Linked DNA regions of Homo sapiens. The protein of the gene in region 3 purifies or fractionates together with the protein of the main gene of each other region. This does not show direct contact. Each region holds a gene or a part of one and is shown on either strand. Other genes may lie near its edges.

The links. The genes of interacting proteins can lie anywhere in the genome.
Region 1: the proteins of CELA2A (region 3) and YLPM1 purify together in Homo sapiens (affinity purification with mass spectrometry; one large-scale study listed by BioGRID and IntAct). This does not show direct contact.
Region 2: the proteins of CELA2A (region 3) and ARID3B purify together in Homo sapiens (affinity purification with mass spectrometry; one large-scale study listed by BioGRID and IntAct). This does not show direct contact.
Region 4: the proteins of CELA2A (region 3) and ARID3A purify together in Homo sapiens (affinity purification with mass spectrometry; one large-scale study listed by BioGRID and IntAct). This does not show direct contact.

Annotation. Positions count from the first base shown.
Region 1 is NC_000014.9:74,761,201-74,766,521, reverse strand, and holds the start of YLPM1 (YLP motif-containing protein 1), read right to left. Parts: upstream 3,207-5,321; 5' UTR 3,033-3,206; coding exon 2,160-3,032; intron 1-2,159. UniProt on the Homo sapiens protein: Plays a role in the reduction of telomerase activity during differentiation of embryonic stem cells by binding to the core promoter of TERT and controlling its down-regulation.
Region 2 is NC_000015.10:74,575,029-74,579,625, reverse strand, and holds part of ARID3B (AT-rich interactive domain-containing protein 3B), read right to left. Parts: intron 1-4,597. UniProt on the Homo sapiens protein: Transcription factor which may be involved in neuroblastoma growth and malignant transformation. Favors nuclear targeting of ARID3A.
Region 3 is NC_000001.11:15,459,429-15,464,025, reverse strand, and holds part of CELA2A (chymotrypsin-like elastase family member 2A preproprotein), read right to left. Parts: intron 2,466-4,597; coding exon 2,368-2,465; intron 1,294-2,367; coding exon 1,165-1,293; intron 641-1,164; coding exon 504-640; exon of another isoform or gene 278-503; intron 1-277. UniProt on the Homo sapiens protein: Elastase that enhances insulin signaling and might have a physiologic role in cellular glucose metabolism. Circulates in plasma and reduces platelet hyperactivation, triggers both insulin secretion and degradation, and increases insulin sensitivity.
Region 4 is NC_000019.10:959,844-964,440, forward strand, and holds part of ARID3A (AT-rich interactive domain-containing protein 3A), read left to right. Parts: intron 1-248; coding exon 249-321; intron 322-4,404; coding exon 4,405-4,588; intron 4,589-4,597. UniProt on the Homo sapiens protein: Transcription factor which may be involved in the control of cell cycle progression by the RB1/E2F1 pathway and in B-cell differentiation.

The DNA of each region.
Region 1 (5,321 bases), on a different chromosome or scaffold from region 3:
GACAGAGCAAGACCCTGTCTCAATATATATATATGCAACAATAATAAAAAAGGCCTAGGTGAAGTAAACATGGCAAAATCTTGATAGCTGTTGAATCTCAATGATGGGTATGTATGGGGAATCATACTTTTTTCTCTATTTTGTGTATTTTAAAAATATTTCACGATAAGAAATTTTGAATGACACATTCCAAAAACAAAATATGAATCAAAGAATAATAAATATGTAGAAGGATTGCCAGAGACTGGTACTGGCATGAAGAAATATTTATCATCTAATAAACCAACATATCCTAAGTCTAGAACATGACAACTCTCGTATTTTATTCAACAAATCTGTGGAGAGCCTACAATTTGCAAGGCACTGTCCTAGGTGCTACGGTAATAAGAAGATAAGTAAGATAATTCCTGTCTGCAAGGGACTTACAATCTGAAGAACAGAACCAAACCAGATGGGTGAGCACAAGCAGGGCTTCATGGAAACCTTGATATTTGAGATATGCCTTGAAAGCAATACAACTCTAAGGGGAAACAGAGGGTTGAGGAGGTTAGGATGAATTCTAAAAAGAAGAAAGAAAGCCACAGGCTTCAAGGCTCTTCTTGATCTGGTCTATGTGCACCACAAGTCTCATTTTCCACCACTCTGCCTCTCACCAAAGAATTGCAGGCACTGAATATTCAAGACACTGAGTTCATTACAGAAAAGGGTACAAAGGCAGAAAAGTAAAAGCACTGTTCATGGTAACTATACATATTAAGGCCTGATCTGACACACACACTCCTCCCAAAAAAAGCCAAAAATACAATTATTTTGTCTCTCTGTAAGGTCAGAAAAACAGTCTAGTAGAGTGAGAATATAAATGTCCTATTTTGGCTCAGACTAACTGAGAATGTTTGACAACAAAAGCACTAAAGACTTCAGAGTGGGGTGGGAAAGAGGACAGAAAGTCTGTCTCTATAATAGAGCAATCTGGGGAAAATAAACTGGTGAGATGGTACAAATTTGATGTAAGCCAACAGAATCATTATTCTACTACTTTATTTCAGCATCCCAAGTGTTTTCTCCAGAAGATGTGCCAAGCATCATTTCTTAAAACAACTTGCTTCTGTTCTTAATTTCTAATGCCAAACCACCGTAAAATTATAATACTGCATCCCTATCTTTTGGAAATCTTTTATAGGTAAATCTGAGCGTTTATATTACAAGATTCTCTTTTTTCCTTAGTGAATCTAAGGTAAATTAGTAATCGCTGAAAAAGTGTCTACTTTAGGAAATCATAACAATTGATTTATTCTGCTTTAGTTTGACCTTCCCTCTCTCAAGGGGGAACTCGTTTATTACTGTTACCCTGTCAATTTGTCTGTTCTGCGGGATAAGAATGGCTGACTCTCTCATGAAAAGATATCACCAAACTTTTTTTACGTTGGCCAAATTGCAAGGCTGTTTCTTTGGAGTGAATGGTAATGACAATGAAACGCAGAAAATTGCTCATTATCTTAAAACAATCTTTAAATAATATGAGAAAAGGATGTCTGGGTCAATTCCTAAAATGGACCAATCGATCCCCAAAAGGGTCTCGGGACTCATCTATGTATTGTATATGTACCTATAAGCATAATTAGGATGCTCCTGGTAAGACAAGATTTCCATCCTTTTTCTGAAACCTCTTAATTCAGGAAGCTGACAACTATCCCTGGCCCCTAAGTAATATTTTTAAAAGAAGCTAACTAATCATAAAGTTTACAAACATTCAAGTGTCAGCCCTTGGCGAGGCCTCTTTTTCATGCTTTCTCTCAAATGGAAACTTTCGTTTAAAATACAATTTTAAAACAAGACCCTCTGCAACAAAATCTATTTGCAACAGCAACAAAATCTAAGAGGATGGTCAAAGAAACCAAGGAATGTATCTGAGAGGTAACTTTTGAGCCACCCCACCACTGTATGTAATCCATACACATCTACAAACGCTGTTTTTTTGGTAATTCACATCTAGCTAATTAAAAAGCTGAGCTGTCAGCCCTCTGACTCTTACGGAATCCTTTGGAGTGTTAGCTAGTCATTGTGTGTTGGAATTAGACTAACCACTGGTTAAAGCCCTGAGGCCTGCTCATTCAGGGCCCTCTAGGTGAAAGATGAGGTTCAGGCAGATGCTTTCTTACCTGTGGAGTCATCGTAGAGGGATCTGGCTCAGGGGCGGCTTGCTGCTGTTCAGTACTCTTGTTTTTGGCCCCACTCTCCAAAGGCTCTTGCTGGACAGTTGTCTTATTTCCAGGGGGGGCGGACGGTGGTGGTGGAGCTAGTAGTTGGGATTTAGAATGGCCCTGGGAGGGGCGGGAAGGAGATGCCTGAGAAGAGGGCAAGTAGGACTGGGAATGGCTCAAATAGGATTGCGAGGAAGAGGAGGAGGATGAGTAAGAAGGGGTGGGCGCCAGGTAGGATTGGGAAGGTGGGGACTGCGAAGGGGACGGCTGAGCAGGAGGCAGGTAGGGCTGAGATGAGGTCGGGGGGTAGTAAGAGGGTGGCGGCTGAGGTGGGGGCATGTAAGACTGAGATGGGGGCATATAGGACCCAGGCGGCACAGGGGGAGATTCAGGGGGGGATTCCAGCTCCATTGGAACCAAACCAGGAGGCCCGTCTCGTTGGTGGTGGAGCATCTGGTGTTTGTACTGCTGCTGCTTCTGATAGCTGAGGGCCGGCCCGGGTGGCGGGGGCATCGGTGGCGGTGGCGGCTGCCAGTCTCCGTAGCCGCCCCCCGGCATCACTGGCGGGGGCGGCAGAGGGGGCGGAGGAAGGTGGTGGGGCTGAAGCACGCACTGCATTTGCTTCTGGTGCATCTGCTGCAGCTGCTGGAGCTGCGCCAAGTGCTGTTCGCGGAAGCTCATGAAGCCCGAGGAGGAGGGGGCCGCGGGAGTCGTCGAGCTCGAGTACCCGGGCCCCGGCGAGGCCTCAGGAAGCGCCACTGGCGGCGGCGGTGGGACCGGTGGCGGCGGATAGTGGCTGCTCCCGCCATACCGGCCCCAATTCGGGTACATATCGAAAAAGAAGGCGCAGGGCTCGTCCTGGCGCCGTTACTCGTCGCAACCGACCTCCAGGAGCCGCGGCGGCGACGGCGACAGCCGGAACTCGCGGCGCCTACAGGCCCCGGAGCGTGTAAACGGAGCGCGCCAGTGCGCCGGCGCTCCCGAGCTGGGCCCGCGACCGGGAAGGCGGGGACGCGACTTGGGCGACTACGTCTGCGCAGTAACCACCGAGAGGAGAACAAAGGCGAGATAGAGCGGTCCTTTACTTGGCGACTCGTGGTTGCCATCTTCCTTTGGGTTCAGATAATGTAGGCTCCAGTAGAATGTTCTCATAGAACTGAAAAACCATAGAGTCTCACAGCCGAAAGAGGTGGTAGAGATCCTATCGCTCCACGGGTTCATTTTTGAATGAAAAAAAAAAAAGGTTCCATTCACAATAGCAACAATCGCAACAACAACAAAAAAACATAAAGCAACTAGGAAAAACTCTAACAAGAAAGATGTAGGACTTATATGTAGAAAGCTACAGAGTCATAAAGAAGCATATCCAAGTAGGATGAAATTAGACTTCAAATAATGGAGAGGCTTACCATGATCCTGGGTGAAAAGAGGAAAAATTGTAAAGATGTCAGTTTCTCCCAAATTAAATGAATAGACCTAACTCAATTCTCCCCAGAAATTCAACTGGGAACAAAGCTGTGAAGAATGGAAAGGTGTTTTCAAGGCAGAGTGTAAGATTACACCAATTCCTGCAGACATATAGTGAGTAACATCTGCAGGAATTGTAGAAGGGGAGAAATGGAATTTTTTAGACTGTCTCAACACATATAAATCGGTGTTGCAGAATCTCAGAGCAAAAGCAAAGAGAGCAAAAACCAGATACAAAGATGGTCTAAAGACAACCTGGAAGATAATCTTCCAAAAGCTCTCAACGTAATACCAGACATAAACTCTTACTTTAGCTTGAGTGAATCACTAAAAAGCAAAGCTAATACACTGAATTCTTTTGGGTGTGTGGGGGGGGGCGGGGGGAGGGAGAACTGTGAGAATATTGTGTCAGTGCATCACTTGAGTAACATGCAAATAATTGACCTTTCTTCCATCTTAGCAACCCAGATCTTCACCTCTCTCAGGAGGTGAATGTGAATGGAAAGTGGAGCAGCAAGGCATCCTTCAAAAGGAAGAGCTTCTGTTTTCAAATAGAAATTTAGTTATGTTTCTTTTAACTTTTTATTGAAGTATAACGAATATACAGAAAATTACATGTCAAAAGACAAAATTACAACAAATTTAGTTTAAAGATCTTAATTAACTTTTACCTGCTATTCTAGAATTGGGCAACGTCTCATTCTATAAAGCAGAAACAGTGTTCCAATGAGCAGAACAATCGGGATAATTTCATAGACAGAAAAGAAACGCAGAGGCAGGGCGCGGGGGCTCACTCCTGTAATCCCAACACTTTTGGGAGGCTGAGGCAGGCAGATCACCAGGTCAGGAGATCAAGACCAGCCTGGTCAACATGGTGAAACCCCATGCCTACTAAAAATACAAAAAGTATCCAGGCGTGGTGGTGCTCACCTGTAATCTCAGCTACTCAGGAGGCTGAGGCAGGAGAATCACTTGAACCCAGGAGGCAGAGGTTGGAGTGAGCTGAGATCGTGCCACTGCACTCCAGCCTGGGTGACAGAGCGAGACTCCATCTCAAAAAAGAAAAAAAAGAGAGAAACAGAAAACTAAAAGTGGATTGTTTGTTTCAAAGTTTCTTTTCTTATAAGGTTAAAGCAGAGAGGACTTCTTTATCATGCTGGCTAAAAATGGACTGTTTGCAGACTTGGCTATTATTTCTCTCTCTCCTGGTTTATTGAATGGTCAGATAAAGATTTTAATTTTGGCATGGCAACATCAATAAACTCCATTTTGGTTTGTTCTGTTGGGCCTAATGCCCAACTTGCTATAAATTTTATTTAACACATGTCTTAAGTAGACAGCATAGTAAATTTTCACAAGCCAATCACACTTGTGAAATCGGCACCCAGATCAGGAACCCAACCCAGAAACCCTAGTTAGTTGTGTTTTTAATATTTTGGGCTGACATTTTCTTTTGAAAAATGTATAAATTTAGGCCGGGCATGGTGGCTCACACCTGTAACCCCAGCCTTGGGAGGCCAAGGCAGGCGGATCACTTGAGGTCAGGAGTTCAAGAGCAGCCTGACCGACATGATGAAACCCCATCTCCACTAAAAATACAAAAATTAGCTGGGTGTGGTGGCACATGCCTGTAATCCCAGCTACTCAGGAGGC
Region 2 (4,597 bases), on a different chromosome or scaffold from region 3:
TTCATACAATTACTTTGATAGAAAACTGCTAAAGGGGCTTTTCTTCTTTTATTTTTTGTTCATCAAGGGTAGCTCGATAGACACAATCATGGACACACAATACAGACAATAGAAACTTCCAAGATGACACTAATTGAACCCTCTCATTCAATAGATAAGGAAACTGTGGCCACCAGAGTGGGGAGGATGTGCTCAAGATCAGGAGAACGAAGGGATGTTAGCCCTGGCTTTGCACTGCCAGTCCAGAGCTCTTTCCACCCCCACAGGGCACTGCGCCTCGTCCCACTCCAATCTTCTCAGGCTTCTTTATGCGCAGGTTGCTCTGCTGCTCAGGGAGGGGAGGGGGTCGCCAAGGTGCAAGTCACCCCGGTCTTGCCTAGAAACCAAGGTGCTGAGGGCTGAAAGGCCCATCTGTTGCAGTCAATTCACCCAAACATGTTAACAAGCAAGAGATACAGCACAAAGCAGCAGTTATGGCCCGTCCCTGTCTCCCACTGGACAGCCATTTTATCACCTGCAGCTGCGGTCATTCGGGGCGGCCTGCTGTGTGCTGCATCCCTCAGAGCTGTCTGCTTCCTCTGTGGGCACAGCCTGCTGTGTCAAAGCTGCTGGCCCCTCTCACAGCCCACCTGGGTGTCTCCGGGCCTTTCAAACTCAGGCTATTTTCTTTCGTTTCTTTCTTTCTTTCTTCCTTGCATTTCCCTTTCCCTTTCCTTCTTTCTTTTGTTTTTTGAGACAAGGTCTCACTCTGTTGCCCAGGTTGTAGTGCAATGGCATGAACTCAGCTCACTGTAGCCTTGACCTTCCAAGCTCAAGTGATCCTCCCACCTCAGCCTCCAAAGTAGCTGAGACCACAGGCGCATGCCACCACACTCAGCTAATTAAAAAAAAATGTTTTTTTTGTAGAGACAGGGTCTCACTATGTTGTCCAGGCTAACTCAGGCTATTTCCAGTGACTCCTGTGATATCTACTGCTTACCTTTCATATTAGCTATGGAGGCCAAGTCCCTGACCTGCTGCTGAGGTCTATGAGGCTTTTCCTTGGTCCCAACTAGCAAGATCTGCCTCCTGTGTCCCCCAGACACTCCACAAGTGACAAGTCACAAATGTCTAAGGGCCCTTGTTCTCACCATTCTGTTAAGAACAAAGACAGCCGGGCTCGGTGGCTCATGCCTGTAATCCTAACACTTTAGGAGGCCGACGCGGGCGGATTACCTGAGGTTGGGAGCTCAAAACCAGCCTGGCCAACATGGTGAAATCCTGTCTCTACTAAAAATACAAAAAATTAGCCAGGTGCAATGGTACATGCCTGTAATCCCAGCTACTTGGGAGGCTGAGGCAGGAGAATAGCTTGAACCCAGGAGGTGGAGGTTGCAGTGAGCCGAGATGGTGCCACTACACTCCAGCCTGGGCTACAGAGGGAGACTTTGCTTAAAACAAAAAAAACAAAAAAAAACAAAAAAAAGACAGGCCAGGTGCGGTGGCTCATGTCTGTAATTCCAGTACTTTGGGAGTCGGAGGCAGGCGGATCACTCGAGGCCAGGAGTTTGAGACCAGCCTGGCCAACATGGTGAAACTGTTTTTACTAAAAAATATAAAAATTAGCCAGGCATGGTGGTGCATGGCTGTAATCTCAGCTACTTGGGAGGCTGAGGCACGAGAATCACTTGAACCCGGGATGGGAAGGTTGCGGTAAGCTGAGATCGACCACTGAACTCCAGACTGGGACTCTGTCTCAAAAAAAGGAACAAAGACAGCAAGCCTCACATGATTAAAACTGTAATCTGAGGCCCAGCACGGTGTGGTGGTTCATGCCTGTAATCCCAGCACTTTGGGAGGCTCAGGCAGTTGGATCACTTGAGCCCAGGAATTTGCTACCAGCCTGGGCAACATAAGGGCCTCGTCTCCACACACACACACACAAAAAAACAGAAAAATTAGCTGAGTGTGGTGGTGCACACCTGTAGGCCCAGATTCTCAGGAGGCTGAGGTGGGAGGATCACCTGAGCCTGGGGAGGTCAAGGGTGCGATGAGCCATGATTGCGCCACTACACTCCAGCTTGGGCAATAGAGTGAGACCCTGTCTCAAAAATAAATAAAATAATTAATTAAAATAAAAGTGCAATCTGCTCCCACCCCTCTTTTAAAATTTTCTTCTTCTTTTTTATTTCTGAGATGGAGTTTCGCTCGTCACCCAGGCTGGAGTGCAATGGTGCGATCTTGGCTCACTGCAACCTCCGCCTCCCGGGTTCAAGTGATTCTCCTGACTCAGCCTCCTGGGTAGCTGGGATTACATCTTCTTTTTTTTTTTTTTAAATTACAGGGATGGGGTCTTGTTACGTTGCCCAGGCTGATCTCAAACTCATGGTCTCAAGTGATCCTCCCACCTAGGCCTCCCAAAGTGCTGGAATTATAGGCATGAGCCACCATGCCCCACTCCCAACCCTCCTGAACCACTCACTCTAGTTCGGACTACCAGATAAGAGTTTTCTAGAAAGGAGATCGCTGGGAATAACAACCTCTACACTATCTTCCTGCCTCAGTCTCTCCTCTCTAGCCCAACTATACACTGCCACGGCAAGTTTCCTGAAAGCCAATATTTTGCCTTCAATAACTCAGCTATATCTACAGACTGAAGCGCTTTTTGGGCAAACATGGCTCTTCAGAGTCTCATGCCAGCTGACCCATCCAGGATGGCCCCTGGCTCTGGGCCATCAACAAGGGTTCTTCCAGCTACACCAGGGCCACATGTGTCACAGCATTTTTTCCTCCACCTCCATGGTTGGGTCTGATACACTAGAGCCACAGCTCTTCTCAGAGCCTTTCTCTGCACTGCAGGCCAGGGTGAGGCCCCAGCACTCACTCCTTTGGCACTCAGTCACAGGAAACAATGCTACCTAACACGGCTTGCTCTCATGTACCTGACTGGAGGTAAGATGATTTTCATAAAAAGTTTTTTTTTTTTTGAGACAGGGTCTCACTTTTTGGCCAGGCTGGAGGGCAGTGGCGCAATGTTGGCCTCCATGACGGCCCCCAAGTCCCCGGCTCGAGCAATTTGCCCACCTCAGCCTCCCAAGTAGCTTGGGACTACAGGCATGCATCACTATGCCTGGCTAATTTTGTTTTCATTTTTTGTAGAGAGAAGGTCTCACTATGTTACTGAGACTCACCTGAGCCTCCCACCTCAGCCTCCCACAGTGGTGGGATTACAGGCGTGAGCCACCACACTCAGCTAAGAGTTTTTCTTGCAGAGGATATTTTACATCTTTATTCTCTTTCTCATCTTTCCATGCCAGAGGGTCTCAACGGGACAATTTTGCCCTCCAGGGGACATTTATGACATCTAGAGACATTTTTGGTTGTTGTGACTGAGGGGCTGATATTGGTATCTAGTGGATAGAGGCCATGGATACTGCTAAACGTCCTACAGTAACCAGGTGCGGTGGCTCATACCTGTAATCCCAGCACTCTGAAAAGCCGAGGTGGGAGGATCACTTGAGGTCAGGAGTTCAATACCAGCCTGGGCAACATAGTGAGACCTCATTTCTACAGAACAAAAAAGTTAGCCAGGCATGGTGGTGCCTACCTATAGTCCCAGCTACTCAGGAGGCTGAAACAGGAGAAAGGCTTCAGCTCAGCACTTTGAGGCTGTAGTGAGCTATGATCGCACCACTGCACTCCAGCTGAGGCAACAGAGTGAGACCCTGTCTCAAAATTAAAAACAAAATCCTACAGTGCACAGGACAGTCTCCACAACAAGGACTACCCATCCCAAAGTCAACAGTGCTGAGGCTGAGAAACCTTTTATTAAAGTAACAAGTGGCAGACAGAACCGTTTCCCTTCTGTTGGTAATGCCAGCAAACAGTGAAATACCTGACGTAAGTGCTGAAGACAGGACAAAGATTTACTCAGGACCTGAAGAATCATAAAGTGACATTATCAAAGGGAGTCACTCACTCCTGCTTTGGGTTCACTCAGAAATATACTAGATGGCAATCTGGCAGTCCCAGTTGCCACAGAACAGCAGGATATGCAGCAAAGACTGTTCTCTACTGCTGACTCTCAATTACGGGGCAGCTGGCTGAAGGACACAGATGCACCCAAACCTCAAGGCAGCTTGAATACCCTGCATGTTGCAATCTGAGCCAGGAAAACCAACAAGACTGCTCACACAGCAAACATGTCCTGAGCACCTTCCTGCCTGGCCCTGTGCTAGCACTGGGGACATGAAAGAATGACAAAGTGGCCCTCCTTGAGGAGCTCCTAGTCTAGTGGGGACATATAGTAGTAAACAATTACTGATCTTCACAATCGGCTTGGCTGATCTCACTTCCATTTTCCTTTAAAAATCCTTCAGGGAAGGGAGAAAAACAATAAAGTGGAAAATAAAGCAGTGGAGCTCCACTGCTGATTAAAATCTATATTGCTATGGCAGCCCCTTTGAGACAGGATCAGCTCCTGGGTTTGCACCAGCTGGGCTTGTGGAGCTTGTAAATAATTAAAAGGTAATTGGAAGGGGAGACCAAAGTATTAAGTGGATTTCTCTCTCAGGGCAAACGGGGAGGTTCATTGCTGCCAGTCACATTATCTTTCAGG
Region 3 (4,597 bases):
GGCTGGAGTGCAGTAGCGAAATCTTGGCTCACTGCAACCTCCATCTCCCAGGTTCAAGTGATTCTCGTGCCTCAGCCTCCTGAGTAGCTGGGACTACAGGTGCACACTGCCACATCCTGCTATTTTTTTTTTTTTTAATATTTTTAGTAGAGACAGAGTTTCTCCGTGTTGGTCAGGCTGGTCTCCTGACCTCAAGTGATCCGCGGGATGGGCCTCCCAAAGTGCTGGGATTACAGGTATGAGCCACTGCGCCCAGCCAAATATTTGCATTTTACAGATGAAAAAAGTGCTGCATGGAGAGACCTAGTAATGTGTCCAAGGTGTCACAGTCATTAAGTGGGAGAGCTGACATTTGATCCCAGGCAGGCGTCAGCCTATGCCATCCCGTCTCTCCAAGGCAGCCACACACCCTGGGATGACAGGTGAGAGGCCCCGGCCAGACAGGGGTGACGTGAATCACCTCCCTTCCCTCCCAGGCCTGGGGGCTCCTGGCTCCCACTTACTCTGCAGCCTTCCCCAGCCCGTGACGTAGCAGGGGTAGTTGTTGGGTAGAATGGTGCCGGCAGGAGGGAGGCAGGCCAGCTGGATCTTGTCGGTGAGGGAGACGGGGTTAGCCAGTTTGAGCAGGGCAATGTCGTTCCTGGGTGAGTGTGGAGGCGAAGCATGAGGACCGGGTTGACTTTTCCTGCCCTGTGGGCTTTGGAGGGCTTGGAGACCTTGTCATCTTCCCTGTACCCTGTTACCCCAGGTTGCTCTGACTGGCAGGGCCCCAGGGCATGTTTGAAAATGCAGAGGGCCTTGTTGAAAGGGGGAAGGCAGGAGAGATTGTGTCCTACTCCAGGGACAGTCACAGGGTTGACAGCACTGTCCCTGTGTCCCCAGGACCTGGCATGAAGTAGATACATGCTCAGCGGACAGGGGCCCTGCAGGTGTAACTGGCAGCAAACCCAGGTCGCTCTGGCAGTCTTTGCTTCACCCTCCCCAGGTCACATCCCCACCCCAGACATCTTTGGAGCTGGTTCCACATCTAAGAGGCCAGAGCTCCTTCCCCCTCCCTGTAGAAGAAGCAGAGGGGGTGTGGTGTGGTTGAGACCCTTGCCTCTGTGAGACCCCCATCTGTTCCCTGACAACCTCACCCCCAAGTGCACCCAGACAGAAACGAACCCTTTGGAGATTTGGTTGGAGTTCCAGTCCTTGTGCACCACAATCTTAGAGACACTGACTGCCAGCGAGCCGGACTCCGCAACGTAGAGGTTGTGCCGGCCCAGCCCCACGCGGTAGGTCCTGGAGGAGCTGGGAGAAAGGGGGCCCAGGGAGAGGGTCACCTCCAGAGGCCTGGCTTTGGATAATGCTGGGGATAGACCCAAGTAACTGGCTGCTGCGTGAGCCACTAGATGGGACTTGGGGATCTTTCCTCCCCTGGGACAATCAGTTAGTTATAATAGGGCCTAAAGTATATAACCTAAGAACTATGATCATATAATAATTGTTACTATACTAACTATAAACTACAATATAAAATAAAAGTTATAATAACACAAACTCTATAGTTCTTATGGAGGGAATGAGATGAACACAGAGAAAACAGGAGTCATTTGCCCTCAAGGACATTTTTCCCACCTTTCATTTGCAGATGGGGAAACTGAGGCCCAGAGAGGCGTAACCTGGCCCAGAGTCCCACCGTTAGTGAGAAACCAGAACTACAAGCCAGGACTCCTGACTGTAGGCCTCTATTATTTTCCCCAATACCTCCTAGAGCTTATTATAAATCGGATGGGAGAAGGGATCACTCCTGGTAGGGAGTCACGCCGACCCGGCAGAAACTCCGGTGAGTTCCAGCTGTGATGAGCAGAGGTCACGGACAAAGAAGAGGATAAGTGAACAACGTTGCAGAACCTTGTGGGCCTTTATAATTCATCTATAATTCAGAATTAGCTTTCACTGAGCACTTACTAAGTGCCAGGCCCTTTGGTAAATCAACTCATTGAATTCACACTAAATTCTGTTACTCCATTTTTCTGCAGGTGATGGTATTGAAGCTTTGAGAAGTCAGTTAAGTTGTTCAAGGGAACCCAATTCCAGATCCAGAGGCCACATGTAGTTTCCCCAAGAGGGCAGAGATTGGGCCTTCCCCTCCTCTTCATCCTCCCTCAGTGCCTGCCTGGCACAGACACTCCATCCATGCCATGTACTGACATTGATGGGCCAACACACTGAACCATTGATTGACTACAGCTTGTGTCTCAGCCAGTATAGTGGTTATTTGCAAGGCTGCTTTATGTAGCATGGTTCAGGCCATTTGAGCCCCCAGCTCAGAAATGAGCACCAGCTGGTGAGCAGGCCAAGCGCCCAGGGAAAGGCAGTTACCTGATGCAGTGGGCAGCCGTCAGGACCCAGCTGTTGGCTATCAGGGACCCTCCGCAGGTGTGGTACCACTTGCCATTGGAGCTGTACTGCAGGGAGACCTGGGGAGAAGCAAAGGAGCTCTGTGGCTAGGTTTGAAAGAGCAGGGCCTCCCTGCACTCCAGTTTCCCAAGAACGGGGCTGGGACAAGGGTAAGGGGGAGTGAGGCAGTCGCCTCATGTGCACAACTTAAGGCAGCACCCAAAACCTCAGCCATCAAGATAAAAAACGTGTTAATGCAATCTACATGAAAAACAATCAGGCCAGGCATGGTGGCTCATGCTTGTAATCCCAACACTTCGGGAGGCCAAGGAAGGAGGATCACTTGAGCCCAGGAGTTTGAGACCAGCCTGGGCAACATGGTGAAACCCCATCTGATAAGGTTTGGCTGTGTCCCTACCCAAATCTCATCTTGAATTATAGTTCTTATAATCCCCATTTGTCGTGCGAGGGACCTGGTGGGAGGTAATTGAATCATGAGGGTGGTCACCTCCATGCTGTTTTCATGATAGTGAGTAAGTTCTCACAAGATCTGATGGTTTTATAAGGGTCTTTCCCCCACTTTTGCTCGGCACTTCTCCCTGCTACCGCTGCGTGAACAAGGATGTGTTTCCTTTCCCTTCTGCCATGATTATAAGTTTCCTGAGGCCTCCCCAGCCACGCTGAGCTATGAGTCAGTTAAACCTCTTTCCTTTATAAATTACCCAGTCTCAGATATGTCTTTATTAGCCGTGTGAGGCAGGACTAAATACATTGTCTCTACAACAAAAATAGCCCAAAATGAGCCGCTGGGTGCGGCGGTGCATGCCTATAGTCCCGGTTACTCAGAAGGCTGAGGTGGGAGTATTGCTTGAACCCAGGAGTTTGTGAACCAGCCTGGGCACCATAGTGAGAACTTGACCCTACCAAAAAAATTTTAAAATAAAATAAAATTAACAGAGTGAGACCAGGTCTTTAAAAAAAAAAAAAAAGAACTTTAAGGTGGTGACATTTGACACTGTTTTAGTCTCTAATGAAGCTGTTCCATGCCCTTCCTGTTCCTTCATTCCTCCTCCCCTGTCTTTCAATTCCCTGCCACGGCCAAGCAGAGGGGAGGGAGGTGACAGTAGGGCATGGACTGCTCTGATCGGGCTCCCTATAACTGTGGGGAACGATGACCTGTTTGTTGGCAGATGCCTGCTTTTCTCTGAACGTTGTTGTTTTTAATTAGCCATTTGGCATTTCTCGTTTGTGTGACATTAAGAGGTCTTAAAAAAGATGTTTAAAATTAGAAAAAGTGAAAAAAGATACTTAAAAGGATGTACCCCCCCCCCAATTTAAAAATGTGCTGAAACCATCGTACAGATGTGAAATTTAGCCCACATAATACGTATTATGTGTGGCCAGCAAAGTGTAGCTAAAGAGGTAGCACTGAACCAGATTTGAATCCTCATTCGCCCCCCGGGCTAACCCAGTGCCTTTGGGGAATTCTGTAACCTTTCCAAGTCCCAGTTGCCTTCTCTGGAAATGGGGAACATAAGCCACTGTGCAGGGCTCTCAGGGTGACTCATACTGTAATTAAGCCTGGGTGACAGAATGAGACTCTGTCTCCTGGAGAAGAAACAAAATTGCATTAAAATATCATTCATCTTCGTTAGTGAGGTTTTTTGTTTGTTTGTATTTTTTTTTTTTTTTTGAGATGGCTATCTATGTTGCCCATGCTGGTCTCAAACTCTTGGGCTCAAGCAATCCTCCTGCCTCAGCCCCTTGAATAGCTGGGATTAAAGGTGTGTGCCACTGTTCCTGGCTGGTTGCTGAGTTTTGTGCTACCCCCTTACATTTTGCCTCCAGAGTGAATGTCTTACTTGCCTCATCTGAGTCCCCACCCAGCTAGATCTGCCTTATTTCCGCAGGGAAACAGAAGCACAAAGCATAGGGACTCTTCATGGATTAACATTCACTGGTTCTCAAGGCAAGAATACTTTTGTGCAAGAGGGTGAGGAAGTATTTTTGTAGGCAGCAATGATTAGTTCTTAGCACAAATGCGCCCGGTGTTATGGGGCCCTGTAGCAGAGGGACTGTGGCCCTTCTTCCAAATTCTCAGGGAAAAAATACTGTGGGACTGTGAGAAAAGCAAAAGAACTGGCAAAAGCACACAAAGCCAAGTATATAAATTGTGAGGCTGGGTTGAGAGGCTCACGCCTGTGATCCCAGC
Region 4 (4,597 bases), on a different chromosome or scaffold from region 3:
CCAGGCCACCTGGTTTCTGGTGCCTCCTTGCAGACCCTCTGGGAAGCTCGTTCACCGGCATTTCTGTCTTGCAGCCTTGTGGTTCTTCACCTGCCCAGCGGGGTCTTCGGCTCTGGCAGCGGCTTGAGGGTCCTAGGGGTGGTGACCCCTGCTCCTGTCCTCCTGACCTGGCCTCCAGTGCAGGAGGGACATGGTTCCCACACCTGAGCTCTGGCACCAACTAACCCATCCCCTCTCCACCCTCACAGCTCTACGAACTCGACGGGGACCCCAAGAGGAAGGAATTCCTGGATGACTTGTTCAGCTTCATGCAGAAGCGAGGTGAGCCCTCTGCCCCCACCCCGCTGGAGGGAGGTCACAGAAACAGGGCTGTAGGAGGGGCCCTACTGGCTCCAGGTATGTCGGGGCGGTGGTGAGCACCCCGTGGCTGGAGGCATCCAAGGCTCCTAAATCGGGAGGGACTTCAGGGGTGTCTTGGGGGGAAACACATCCTGCCATGGAGGTTTGACGCGGGAGGCACGCCTGTGAGTCTAAGGGGTAGGTCCCTTGGTGGGGGGCAGGGCAGTCTCAGGGCCCCAACCCAGAACAGACAGTCCAGGTCATCTCCTTAGCATCCAGGGTGCAGTGAAGTGGGGGTCCCCACTACTGGGTAATGGGGGAGTGGAACCAGCCTCTGTGTTTAGGGAGTGGGGTCAGATTCGGGCTGGCCAGGTGGGTGCAGGTGCGGCAGGACAGAAGCCCCCCGCCCGGCCGCGAGATGGCTTAGAGTCTAATGATCTCATGGCGGCCAATGCGACATTTGAGTCCTGGCCCCTCCCCTCTTCCCACCAGGGCCTCAGTTTCCCCATCTGTAAAAACGGGCCACAAACAGTCCCTGCCCAAAACTCAGTGGCCAGCAGGTACCCCAGATGTGCTGAGTGCAGGGCCGCTGTTTACTGTGCACACTTATTGGGCACCAACGGTATACCAGGCTCTGTGCCCCCAAAGTCTCCTGGCCTAGAGAGGGCAGGTCTGGGCTGGTGTCCAGGTGGGGAAACTGAGGTCCAGACACAAGACAGACTCAGACGACCAAGGGTAGCCGGGGTGTCCCAGCGGCCATTCCCAGGCCCCACCCCAGCTTAGAGTGACCACGGGGCAGAGAGAGTGCGGCAAGGGCTTCCGTCTCGCCTCCAAGTCCTCGTCGGCCGGAGAGGGTCCTAGGAGCGTCTGCTGCCAGGTAGGAGCCGCCCCAACCCCCCTGGACACTCCTCTAGGGCAGGGAGCTAGCTCCGATCCCCACTGTTCAGACGGGGGAGGAGGCCTTGGGGCCCACAGAGGTCGGAAGGGGTGGGGCAGAGGGCTCTGTCCCTGCACTTGGGGCCGTCACAGGGGCCCGCTGTGTCCCAGCCTCCGCCCACCCCTCCCCTGGCTTCTATAAACACAGGCCCCAGACCCGCCACTGCCAGCCGCCCGGAAGGGAAGGAGGAGGAGGGTTGTGGGCCCCCTGGCCCACACTGCCCAGCGGCCTCCGAGTTAACCCCTCCCGTGCTGGGAACAGAGGATCCAGACCCGGGACCTGGGCGGGGGCCCCTCCTGTGTTATCCTCCAAGGCCAGGCTTGACCAGGGCCCACTGCCCCCTGTGAGGCTGGACAGATCCTCCCCATGACCCTTTATCATCCTGTTCGCACCTGCTCAGCCCTGACCACTCTGCTGTGGGGCTCCGAGCTCCTGGGTCCAAAGCCAACCCGTTTTGCTGTTACCCGTGCCTGGTACAGTGCCTGGTGTCCTGGGGGTACTTAGAAAGCACGGTGAGGGCTGGGCATGGTGGCTCACACCTGTAATCCCAGCACTTTGGGAGGCCGAGGCAGGTGGATCACTTGAGGTCAGGAGTTCAAGACCAGCCTGGCCAACATGGTGAAACCCCGTCTCTACTAAAAGTACAAAAATTGACCAGGCGTGGTGGCAGGCGCCTGTAATCCCAGCTACTTGGGAGGCTGAGGCAGGAGAATTGCTTGAATCCAGGAGGCAGAGGTTGCAGTGAGCCGAGATTGCAGCACTGCACTCTAGCCTGGGTGACAGAGGGAGCCCCCGTCTCAAACAAACAAAAAGCAGGCATGGTAGGCTGCTCATGAGTGTGGGTGAGATGGGGGCCCGTGGCACGTGGGGCCGTGAGGGTTGGTGTCCAGCTTTACCTCCCTCTCCAAGCTGGGAATTCCTACAGGACAGGAGACAGCGAGCTCCTATGCGTCCCTCAAAACCCAGCCTCAAAGCTCCCTCTTCCTTGGCTTCCTCCAGGAGCTTCCTGCTCTGTAATGGGGGCCCTTGGAGCTGAGAATCCGTCAGGTGAACCTGCCCATCACCCTAGACTTCACAATCTTCCTCTCCTTCACTCCAGACAGAGAGAAATAATTTTTTTTTTCCCCTGTGTCACAAAGTAAAAAACTCTAACTAAATTTCTCAGAATTCTCTGGGGGCTAGAAGTGAGGGAGGGGTCCTGACCACACCCTCTCCCCTCAGCAGCAGCAGCTGGACCACCTGACCTGCTGTTCCCTGACAACCTCCCCACCCTTCCTTATCTGGGCCCCACGACGGGCCCTGGTGATGCTCCCAGCTCCTTCTGTAAACATCCTCCTCCCGCCCACTGCAGAGCCAGGGCGTGGCCCTGGGAACCAACCCTCTGCTGCTGATCCTTTTTTTTTTTTTTTTTTGAGACAGAGTTTTGCTTTTGTTGCTGAGGCTGGAGTGCAATGGCGGGGTCTCGGCTCTCTGCAACCTCCACCTCCCAGGTTCAAGTGATTCCCCTGCCTCAGCCTCCTGAGTAGCTGGGATTACAGGCGCCCGCCACCACGCCCGGCTAATTTTTGTATTTTTAGTAGAGACAGGGTTTCTCCCTATTGGCCAGGCTGGTCTCGAACTCCTGACCTTGGGTGATCCGCCCGCCTCAGCCTCCCAAAGTGCTGGAATGACAGGCTTGAGCCACCGCGCCCGGCCTGATGCCGTTACTTTTACTTTGCAAACTCTGAGGCCTAAACTGGTGTCCCGAGTGGGGCCGGGCGGAGGCTCTGGGCAGGTTTCCGGGCCGATCCTGCAGCTGAAACCCGGCGCGGCTCCTCTCGCCCAGGCTGTAAAGTGGGTTTCAGGTGGGATCGGGTCTGAGGCCCGTCTTCCTCCAACCTGGGATCTCCTCCATTCACTGGGGGTTTTGCAACCTGGGAAGGGCCTGGAAGTGGCGGAGGGTGGTGGGAGGTGTTTCTGGAAGGTCAGACACCGGGGGTTCCGGGGGTAGCAGGCCTCGACCAGGCAGAGGGCCGGCTGCTCACTCAGGGCTGCACCCGCTCTCCAGCCAGTCACATCCCAGAACCTCGATGTCCACGTCCCCATCCCTAACAGGGCGATGGGCGTCCCCTCCCACCCCATGGTGAGTGGGCAGCAGCTATGGCCTGGGCCACCTGCCCTCACTGGTCTTCACTGAGCGCCTACTGTATGCCACTGAGTGCTGGGACCCCACGTAGGCAGAACATGGGGTGGGGGCCACAGACTGTACACAATTGATCTCCTAAGTGCAGAATTTCACGGACAGAACGATAGGTTTAAGTGGGTCTTGCCTACTGTCAGGCCAGGGAGGGGCTGGGCAGAGGTGGAGCTGACATCTGAAGCCAGAGGCTCCTGGTGCAGGGGCAGCCTGGGAGAGCCCTGGAGGGGGCAGGTAGGGCTGGAAGGGCGGGGAGGGGCCACGTCTGCAGCCGGCTCCAGGAGTTGAGGGGCAGGAACCTGAGTCAGCCCAGCCGCCTCTTCTTCCTGGGCCAGCCCACCTACCGCCCTTCCCCTGCCTAGGCTAATCCTCCCCCTTTCCCTCCCTGGCATAGCGTAGCCCACAACCCTCTCCTCCTGGGCTAGCCCAACCCCCCATGTCGGGGCTAGCCCATCCCCTTCCCCTCCCTAGGCCAGTCCACAGCCCTCCATTCTCCAGACTTGAAATTGGGTAAGCCAGGCTTTACCCCTTGCCTGCCTGAGGCTGCAGAGCCCCTGTCAGTGTGGAGGGAACAGGCCTCTGGGAACATAGGCAGAGTTGTTTTGGCAGCTGCCGTGGTGTGTGGCGTGGAGAAGGAATAACAAAGATCCGGGCGTCTCCCGCACGTCCCTCCTCTCAGTAACCCTCCTCCCGAGGGCTGCGCTGTCCCTAAGCCCAGGTTACTGGTGGATAAACCGAGGCAGAGCTGCCCCCTCTGCACCCTCTCGAGCAGAGGTTCCCAGCCTGGATGATCCTGCACCCACAGAGGGCCCTGGGCAATGTCTGGAGACATCTGTGGTTGTCACAGCCTGGGCGGGGGAGTGCTCCTGGCATGGAGAGGGCGGAGGCCAGGACACTCGGCTCCCTGCAGTGCCCAGGTGGCCCCCAACCTCCCTCTCGCCCCTTCCCCCAGGGACACCTGTGAACCGCATCCCCATCATGGCCAAACAGGTCCTTGACCTGTTCATGCTGTACGTGCTGGTGACGGAGAAGGGCGGCCTCGTGGAGGTCATCAACAAGAAGCTGTGGCGTGAGATCACCAAGGGCCTCAACCTGCCCACGTCCATCACCAGTGCAGCCTTCACCCTGCGGACCCAGTGAGTGGC